Linked DNA regions of Homo sapiens: region 2 is linked to region 1. Evidence: fine-mapped expression QTL. A gene starts in region 1. The other region holds a variant in brackets. All regions are shown on one strand. Distances are between the middles of the regions.

What was found. PIP is the estimated chance that this variant, and not a neighbour inherited with it, causes the effect.
Region 2: its variant is fine-mapped to the expression of CENPQ in whole blood (INTERVAL, PIP 0.99).

The regions. Positions count from the first base shown.
Region 1 is chr6:49,460,321-49,465,709 of GRCh38, forward strand. It overlaps CENPQ (centromere protein Q), which reads left to right and starts at 3,050. Exons shown (of 9, transcript NM_018132.4): 1 at 3,050-3,133. MMUT (methylmalonyl-CoA mutase) reads right to left here and starts at 2,933. Exons shown (of 13, transcript NM_000255.4): 1 at 2,783-2,933. RefSeq lists enhancers at 2,116-3,016, 2,603-2,672, 3,017-3,916.
Region 2 is chr6:49,487,687-49,493,075 of GRCh38, forward strand. CENPQ (centromere protein Q) reads left to right here. Exons shown (of 9, transcript NM_018132.4): 7 at 666-785; 8 at 921-998; 9 at 4,458-5,389. The coding sequence ends at 4,589. Among named protein-coding and RNA genes, the nearest start is that of GLYATL3, 9.5 kb to the right of the region's middle. The variant C/G (reference allele first, on the strand shown) is at 2,519.

The sequences.
Region 1 (5,389 bases):
CAGCATTGATTGGAACCTATGCAGCCTGTTTCAAAGTCCTTGCATTTAACTAATATGCACACAATTCATCCCAGAACCCATAAGGTGAGCTAAATGGCCTCTTCAATAATCTACTTCTGTGCTAGTTTATAAACTGCTCCAACATTAGAGCTGCATATTCCGGATAACTAGCATAGACTTTTATACTAGGTTGCTGGGTTCAGCGTCATCATTTTCCAGATGTAGAAACTGAGGCTCAGAGAAATAAAGTCGCTTGATCAAAATCCCACCTCACAAAGCCGTAAACTGTTTACCTGAATTACTAAAACTTGTCAGAGTCATACAGCGTAAACATATAGAGCCCATTGTTTAAAAAGATATTGAGATGCAAACATTAATATATTCACTATACTATGTGTTTTATACTGGATAAGGCAACAAGTAAAGGGAGTTTCAAATTTTATTTTCCATACCACTTCTTACCTATCAGTTTAGTAAAGCTTAAATGAAATCAATACTCAACACTTATTATGGGGTCGTTAAACAAGAGACATAAACCACTGGTGACAGTATTAACTATTTTAACTACTTTGGAAAGTAAATTGTCAATATACATGAAATGCTTCAGAAATGTTTATGCCATTCCACTGAGGAACATTACTCCTGGGAAAGCTTCTGTAGTAATATATAAAATAGATGTTTCCTATAGTTTTATTTGTAATAGAGAAAACTTAGGAAAATCGTAAGTATCTCATAACATATGAATAAGTGAATTACAGCATATACAAATGATAGAATTTCATGTAGTTATCAAAATATGTTTAGAAAGCTGGCAAAACTAATCTTTGATGTCAGAAGTCAGAAGAATGGTTACTTAATGGTTGCTAGAATACAACAGGAGCAAGAGAGGGGCTTTTGGGGGTAATGGTCTTGATCTGATTGCCACTTACATAGATATATTCTGTTTGTGGAAATTCATCAAATTATACAGTTATGTTTTATGCAGTTTCTGTAAATATATGTATAAGTAAAAAGTTAAAAATGTGTTATGCATAGTTTCCCAAAAAAAGAGAAACAAACTCAAAAAGTAGTAAGTAAAAGACTCAAGACACGTAATTGTAAGTGCAACAGGTTCAACTATGTAAAAAGTACATAGAACAAAGTCTAAATGGAAACATAACAAAAAAGGCTGGGCATGGTGGTTCACGCCTGGAATCCCAGCACTTCAGGAGGCCGAGGCAGGTGGATCACCTGAGGTCAGGGGTTCAAGACCAGCCTGGCCAACACGGTGAAACCCAGTCTCTACTAAAAATACAAAAATTAGCTGGGCATGGTGGCGCACACCAGTAATCCCAGGTACTCAGGAGGCTGAGGCATGAGAATCACTTCAACCCGGGAAGCAGAGGTTGCAGTGAGCAGAGATCGTGCCACTGCACTCCAACCTGGGCAACAGAGAGAGACCCCGTCTCAAAACAAAACAAAAAAACCTTCCATTTTTTTAATACTAGCACGATTTTTATTCTTTAAATCCATGGGGTCCTTGTCATCCATCTTTTTGCAAGCCATCCACTACATTTACTAGCTTAAAAGGTGGATGAAAAAAATAATGAAGCAACAACTAAACTGTTTCAATAGTAATCCTGTAAAAGGTAATTTGAAAACCACCTGAGACTAAACTGTTGGCAGGAAATATCACACTCATTTCACGTGGGCTTTCCTAAATCTGAACAACTAATAGGAAAGAGCCCCGTTTAAGTGACTTCCTGAAAATCACATGTGAATTGGTGGAGGCTGGAAACAGACACCATTTTTAGATAAAAACACAACTACTGCGGATGGCAATACGACCTCTGAATTTTCTCAGAAGACCATCAAGAGAGGCCTCAAGCATTCAAAGAAGCAACATGCAAAGCAAATATGTTACTGACAACTAAAATGAGTTAAAGAGCAATGATTAATCCCACCCCCACACCTCAAAAACAAATCAGTGAGAAAAAGATTTCTTGAACCAATAAGTTTCAAGCTTTGGCTGCTGACGTATGATTGCACATTAATACTTCAAGAAGGTACTTTGATGTTCAACTAGTTGGGTTTGGAGATGGAAACATAGGGCATGAAAATTATATTTGATATTAGCATAAGTACATCATTAAACACAAAATTATATTGGCAGAAAATCATCAAGTGGTTTAAAACTTTACACACATACGTTATCCAGGGCTTCGAGCTTCCCTAAGACCACCTTCTTTCTAGATAAAACTGAGAACGAGTTAGTAATGTAAGCTTTTATGTCAATTTAGACCTGTCTTTTCTATTCTACCTCTCACTCTTAACACTGTTTACACTCTTAATCCTGTTTACACACAGAAAATCACTTTTATTCCCGAAAACTCTTAGAAAAACCCTGACAATAACATAACCCACAACCTAGAAGGGAGGCAGCCATGAAGCAGGCGCATCCCTTTGGAACCATACAAAAAGTGACCTCTGCCAACGGGAACAGTTCAGGGTGCTTAAGTGGCCAAAGAAGATACCGACATGGCCCCTAAAGTATTAAAAGCACCTTCTTTCCAGAAGTACCTCCGAATTGCCAGGGACTTCGCCCAAAACTAGAGGTTGGTCGAAGTGAAAATCTAAACCTAAGGAGAAGGCAGAGAGTGGGATCCCGTCACAGTAGGAAGGTAAAGAAGACAGAAGTAAAGGACAGAGCGGGAGAGAAAGGACAAAAGTTCAAAATACAGGGGTAGAGGAGGGACAGGAGCCAGAAGAATGGAGCGATCTGAAAGGTGTACGTCCTACTCACTGGTAGGCCTGTTTTGGACTCCGCTGTGGGAGAGGGCGGCTGCACTTCTGCGTCCCCCGCCTCACCTGTCAGACATCCACACAGCCAGGCCTCCCCGCCCTCACCAAGCCCACACAAACCGCGCCACCGCCAGCGTCAGCCGGACGACTCTGGGGGCGTAGGCCGACACCGCCCTCCCTCCAGCCAATCTAATAGCGCTCTCATGGGCGCATTCCTGATGACGTTTAGGGGTAGGGTTAGATGCCCGTTTCCGCTTTCTTCCCACCCACTTCCGGGTCTCCTCTGTTTACGAATGTTTGGGCGCGAATTACTCTAAGCGCGGCTCTCAGAAGGGTGCAAGAAGAATCAGTGGTGAGTCGTGATATCCTTAACCGGCTGGGTGGATCTAAAGTTCAGGGATGAGTTTTAAAGCCAACGCGTTTGTGGCAGACTCCGCAGTTTGCATTTGAGGATAGCGAGGGGGGATTGCTTACGGGGAAATGCCCGATGTCCTAAAAGATCTGCCCTTAGGATCCTGAGATTGAGATGTTTGATTAGGGGGGAGGGAGCAAAGCCATGAATACTTCCTATTTCTCCCGAATCATCCTCATGGCTCATCCTCATTGCTAAATTTCTCCCGCGGGCACTAGTGAAGTCAAGTGCAGCCTTGGACATTAGTGTCTGTGTTTCTCCAGGAGTCCTACTCACTCTTGTGCCCACATAGAGGTCTAAATTGAGGTAATTGAGTCCCATGAGTATCAACAAGCTGGTAAGAAAAACAAGACAACCTAGAATGCCTCCCTCTCTCCTAAAGCATATAGTCTGGCGGCAAACTACTGTACCAGCCTTATTTCTTTTCACTTCTCCTATACACATTAAAAGCCTCGCTGGATTATCCTGTCCCTGAACACGCCAGGTTTTTTGTGTTTTTTCCGAGCTTTCCTGCCGTCCGAGTTTTACTGTTTTCCCTTGGATGCTTCATTTTTCTACTTTTTGGCTAAATATTTCAAAATGTTATTAGAATAATACTTTTTCTATGAATAATGTACAAACATACTTCCGAGATATTGCGGGGTCGGTTCCAGACCAATAAAGCCTGTCACACGATTTTTTTGGTTTCCCAGTGCATATAACAGTTGTATTTACACTGTATTGTAACCTATTAAGTGTGCAATAGCATTATGTGTAAAAAAAAATTACATGCTGTAATTTTAAAATATTTTATTGCTAAAAAATGCTACTAATCATCTCAGCCTTCAGCAAGTCCTAATCTTTTTGCTGGTGGAGGGTCTTGCTTGATGTTGATGGCTGTTGACCAATCAGGGTGATGGTTGCTGAAGATTGGAGTTGCTGTGGCAGTTTCTTAAAATAACAAAATAATGAATTTTGTACAGCAGTTGACTCTTCCATTCACTAAAGATTTCTCTGTAGCATGTGATGCTGTTTGAAAGCATTTTACCCACTGTAGAACTTCTTTCAAAATTAGAGTAAATCCTCTTAACCCCTACCATTGCTTTAGCAACTAAGGTTTTGTGATATTCTGAATTCTTTGTTGATATTTCAAGAATATTCACAGCATCTTCACCAGGGGTAGATTCCATCTCAAGAACTTCGCTCATTCATAAGAAGCAACTTCTTTTCCACTAGTTTTATCATGAGATTGCAGCAATTCAGGTACATCTTCAGGCTCCACTATTTCTCTTGCTATTGCCACCAGATCTTTCATCACTTCCTCCACTGAAGTCTTGAACAAAGTCATGACCTTTACAAAGTCATCCATGAGGGTTGGAATCAACTTTTTCCAGACTCCTGTTAATGTTGATATTTTGACCTCCTCCCGTGAATCATGAATGTTCTTACTAGCATTTGGGATGGTGAATCATTTCCAGAAGTTTTCAATTTATTTTGCCCAGATCCATCAGAGGAATCACTGTCTAGGGCAGCTATAGCTTTACAAAATGTATTTCTTAAATAATATAACTTGAAAGTCAAAATTATTCTTTGATTCATGGGCTGCAGAATGGATGTTGTGTTAGCAGACATGAAAACAGCATTAATCTCCTTGTACATCTCTATCAGAGCTCTTGGGTGACCAAGTACGTGGTCATTGAGCAGTATTATTTTGAAAGGAATCTTTTTGTGAGCTGTAGGTCTCAAAGATGGGCTTAAAATACTCAGTAAACCGTGCTGTAAACAGATGTGCTGTCACTCATGCTTTGTTCTTCCATTTCCAGAGCACAGACAGAGTAGATTTAAAAGAATAAGAGCCCTAGGATATTTCAGAATGGTCAATGAGCATTGGCTTCAAGTCACCACCCATATTAGCCCCTACAAGAGAGTCAGCCTGTCTTTTGAAGCTTTGAAGCCAGGCAATGACTTCTTTCTAGATATGAAAGTCCTAGATAGCATCTTCCAATAGAAGGCTGTTTTGTCTTCATTGAAAATCTGTTGTTTAGTGTAGCCCCTTCATCAATTATCTTACCTAGAACTGGATAACTTGCTGCAGCTTCTGCATCAGCACTTGCTGCTTCACTTTGTACTTTCATGTTATGCAGATAGCTTACTTCCTTAAACCTCAGGAACCAAGCTCTGCTAGCTTCAGGCTCTTTTGCTACAGCTTTCTCACCT
Region 2 (5,389 bases), 27 kb after region 1:
AGCAGTGCCATGTTTAATACCCTTTAGAAACCTGGAGGCTTGCTAATTTTAATTTTATACTTGGCCTGCACACAACACATCCTTGATGTGTTGTCCCCATACTTGTTTTATTCATTTCTTATTTTCTTTTCATCTTCCTCTCTAAATTATGTATTCCTTTAATGTGGGAAACTGTTACTCTTTTTTTTTATTCTCCCTGCTCTAATGCCCAACATTACTTCCTTTTGACAAATTAAAATAGCAGGCTCTTAAATGTTCCTAAATAAATGAAAACAATTCAGAATTTCTCCACTACATGAAGTTTTATGCTGCTTAAGGAAGGTTGCTGTATTTGTTGTCATCAGTTCTGGGCTCTGCTAGATTTACACTTGGATCTTCCAGGATCTCTGACCCTACCAGCATTGGTACGTTTTGAGGAAGTGTTCATGTACATCTCCTTATTCCAGGGAAATTAGATATCCTTATAACACATTAATACCTTGACATACCAGCTTTCCAAGAAGTCTCTTTTTTGAAAGAAACAAAAGTAAATTCACCAGTTGCTTCTAAAAATGTTTTAAATATATATGGTGTTTTTTTAAAATGTGTATGTATAACAATATCTATTAGGATTTAATATAATAATGTGTTTAAGTTAAAATGTTTTTTTTCTCTTTCTGACTCAGGAAGAAATAGATAAAATGGTAGAGACCACAGAGTTAATGACTGGGAATATTCAGAGCCTAAAGAACAAAATTCAGATTCTGGCAAGTGAGGTGGAAGAAGAAGAGGAGAGAGTAAAACAGGTAATTATTTTAAACTGTATTATTGGAATTTGGATATAATTTTTAATGGTTAAATTATGCAAAGATAACTTTCGAGTATAATATGATGAGAGAAATCAGCTTTTTGAAATAATCTGTAGCTTTCTTCTACTTTAGATGCATCAAATAAATAGTAGTGGAGTACTCTCTCTTCCGGAACTTTCTCAGAAAACTCTCAAAGCACCCACACTTCAGGTAAGTGCCTATTTACCATATTGATTACAGGCATACTTTAGAGATGTTGCAAATTTGGATTCAGACCACAGCAAAAAAGCAAATACTGCAATAACGCAAGTCACACAAATGTTTTGGTTTCCCACGGCATATGGAAGTTATGTTTACGCTATACTGTAGTCTAGTAAGTGTGAAAAAGCATTATTTCTTTTTTTTTTTTTTAAAGGGACATACCTTAATTTAGAAAACGCTTTACTGCTAAAAAATGTTAACAATCATCTGCACCTTCAGCAGGTCGTAATCTTTTTGCCAGTGGAGGGTCTTGCCTCAATGTTGATGGCTGCTGACTGATAGCGTGGTGATTACTGAAGGTTGGGATGCATGTGGCAATTTCTTAAAATAAGAAGACAATGAAATTTGCCACATCAGTTGATTCTTCCTTTCACGAAAGTTTTCCCTGTAGCATGTGATGCTGTTTCATAGCATTTTACCCACAGTAGAACCTCCTTCAAAATTGGAGTCAGTTCTCTCATTCCTTGTCACAGCTTTGTCAGCTAAGTTTTTGTCATATACTATATCCTTCATTGATATTTCAACTATGTTCATAACATCTTCATCATGAATAGATTCCATCTCAAGAAACCACTTTCTTTGCTCATCCATAAGAAGTAACTCCTCGTCCATCCAATTTTTATCATGAGATTGCAGCAATTCAGGTACATCTTCAGGCTCCACTTCTAATTCTGGTTCTCTTGCTGTTTCCACCACATCTTCAGTCACTTCCTCCACTAAAGTCTTGAACTTCTCAAAGTCATCCATGAGGATTCAAAATTGAATCCATTTTTTCTAAACTCCTGTTATTGGTATTTTGACTTCCTCTTGTGAATCATGAATGCTCTTACTGACATCTAGAATGATAAATTTATTTTAATATGTTTACAATTTATTTTGCCCAGATCCATCAGAGAAATCACTACCTAGGGCAGCTATAGCCTTATGAAATGTATTTCTTAAGTGATAAGACTTGAAAATTGAAATGACTCTTTGATTCAGAGGCTGCAGAACAGATGTGTTAGCAGATGTGAAAACAACATTAATCTCCTTGTATATCTTCATCAGAGCTCTTGGGTAACTGTGAACATTTTCAATGAGCAGTAATATTTTCAAAGGAATCTTCTTTTCTGAGCAGTAGCTCTTAACAGTGGGCTTAAAATATTCAGTAAGCCATGCTCTAAACAGTTGTACTGTCATCCAGGCTTTGTTGTTCCATTTACAGAGCACAGACAACACAGATGTAGTTGATTTAGTAGAATTAAGGACCCTGGGATTTTCAGAATGATCAGTGAGCATTGGCTTCAACTTCATGTCACCAGCTGCATTAGCCCCTAACAAGAGCCTAACAAAAGCATCTCCTTTAAAGCTTTGAAGCCAGGCATTGCCTTCTCTTTTCCAACTATCAAAGTCCTAGAGATAGCATCTTCTTCCAATAGAATGCTGTTTTATTTACATTGAAAATATGTTGTTTACTATAGCCACCTTCA[C/G]CAGTGATCTTAGCTAGCTAGGTCTTCTGGGTAACTAGCTGTAATTTTTCTATCAGCACTTGCTGCTTCACCTTGCACTTTTTATGTTATAAACACAGCTTCTTTCCTTAAACCTTATGAACTAACTTCTGCTAGCTTCAAACTTTTCTTCTGCAACTTCCTCACCTCTGTCAGCCTTCATAGACTTGAAAACAGTTAGGGCCTTGCTGTGGATTAGGATTTGGTTTAAGGGAATGTCGTGGCTGGTTTGATCTTCCATCCAGACCACTCAGACTTCCCATATCAACAATAAGGCTGTTTTGCTTTCTCATTATTCATGTATTCACTGAAGTAGCACTTTAAATTTTCTTCAAGAACTTTTCCTTTGCATTCACAACTTGGGCGTTTGGCACAAGAGGCCTAGCTTTTGGTTTGCGTGGCTTTTGATAGGCCTTCCTCACTAAACTTAGTAATCTCTAGTTTTTGATTTAAAGTAAGAGACATGATTCTTCTTTTCACCTGAACACTTAGAGGCCATTGTAGCATTATTAACTGGCCTAATTTCAATATCGTTGTGTCACAGGGAATAGGGAGGCCCAAGGAGAGGGAGAGAAACTGGGAAATAAATGGCCGGTTGGTGGAGCCGTCAGAACACATAACAATTACCAATTCAGTTCACTGTTTGATATGGTTGCAGTTATGGCACCCAGAACAATTACAGCAGTTCCATCAAAGAACACTGGGCATAGATCACCATAACAGATACCGTAATAATTTTTAAAGTTTGAACTATTACAAGAATTACCAAAATGTGATGTAGAGATACAAAGTGAGCATGTGCTTTTGGAAAAATGGTGCTGATAGACCTCCTTTGCACAGAGTTGCCACAAACCTTCAGTTTGTAAAAAATGCAGTGTCTGGGAACACGGTAAAATGAGGCATCCTGGTATATCATAGACCAATTATACATTACATATATGAAAACATTATGTCCTATTTCGTTCTTTAAACAAATGGAACCTGATATAAACTGTTTGGCAAATTACTTTTCTCATTCGACTGTATAGTTTGAACATCTTGTCAGTCACGTAGATCTCTCATTTTTGTTGATAGCTATGTAACATTCTGTTGTATGGAGGTCATATAATTTGTAAATTACTGATGGAAATACATAATTTTTTTAATACAGGTAAGACTGGGTACACCCTTGTACATATGTCTTTACTGATTTGTATAGTCATAATTGTAGGATACATTTCTAGAAGTAAATACTGACAGTTTGGTTTTTTTAATGCTTCTAACAATAGCATATAACTCCTTATAAAATAGTACTGTCTTATTTGTAGTAAACTATTTCTTCCAAGGGCTCTAGTAGACATTGTAGTATAAATGTTTGTAGCATTGGAAAGTCTTCATGTTTTCTCAAGAAGTAATTTGAAATTTTCCTATTGGCTGGGCACAGTGGCTCACACCTGTAATCCCAGCACTTTGGGAGGCCAAGGCAGGCGGATTGCCTGAGGTCAGGAGTTCGAGAACAGCCTGACCAACATGGAGAAACCCCATCTCTACTAAAAATACAAAATTAGCCAGGTGTGGTGGCACATGCCTGTAATCCCAGCTATTCGGGAGGCTGAGGCAGGAGAATTGCTTGAACCTGGGAGCTGGAGGTTGCAGTGAGCCAGGACTGCGCCATTGTACTCCAGCCTGGGCAAGAAGAGCAAAACTCCACCTCAAAAAAACAAAAACAAACAAACAAACAAATCCTATCATTTACCAGTGGTGAAAGGAGCAGGATGGGGAGAGGGAGAGATAGATTTGAAAGAAGAATGGCGATTCGTTGACAATTATTGAAGTTGGATGATAGATACTTAAGGTTTATTTTACTGTTCTCTCTAACATACATTTGAGATTTCTCATAATAAAATGTTAACAACTACATTTAATACTATCTTTCCCACAGAAAGAAATTTTGGCGCTAATTCCAAACCAGAATGCTCTTCTAAAGGACTTGGATATTCTTCATAATTCATCACAGATGAAGAGCATGTCAACCTTCATTGAAGAAGCCTATAAGAAACTGGATGCATCTTAAAGAGTGTTTTTTTTTTAGATTGTTCCATATTAATTTAATGTTCGTGAATTTGTAAAACTGTTAACCTATGATTATATGTACAGAGGCTAAGGCTTCTGCAGGATTTATTATCTCCTGATATGCACTTTAAAATTAGTCTTTGTAGTTCTATCATTAGCATCTAATGTAGTTCTGAAGACTGTTTTTAGCAGTTGCCAAATCTAGGAAACTAACATTTATATTGCTGTATCTATAAGTATTTGCCTAAAACCATAAAATAGGAATTGCCTTAAGGATCTAGTAGTTTATAATGCCTGAATGGAACTCATTTATTGGTTAACAGCTCATATCAGGAGCTGTGATAAGTAAGTGTTTACATACACTGTCTAGTGCATAAAAACCTTAGTGTTTGCTATCATTCATTCTGTAGCCAATGGCTTACAGTTTCTGTCTGGTCATCTGGAACTTGAAAAATCCTCAAATGCCTTCACTCTTTTACCTAACTCCCTAGTCTTTTTGGGAAGTAGTTAAGATATGCCTGCTATCTTTAACTTTGGAGGTAGTATCAAAATTTTACTTCTTTGGTTGTTTAGTGAATTAATGTTGAATATTTTCTACTGTCATCAAAACATATTCCCAAAAAGTATTAAAAAGGAACCTTAGCACATTTATTTTATTAAAACAAGAAAACCCAAAATATATAAACCTTTTCTTATTATGATAATAAGCTTATATATGTGAATAAGTTATAACCTAGTGTATAAAAAATTATTTCTAACAAACTACAGTATACTGTCTTGGGTTTTTTTTTTTTTTTTTAG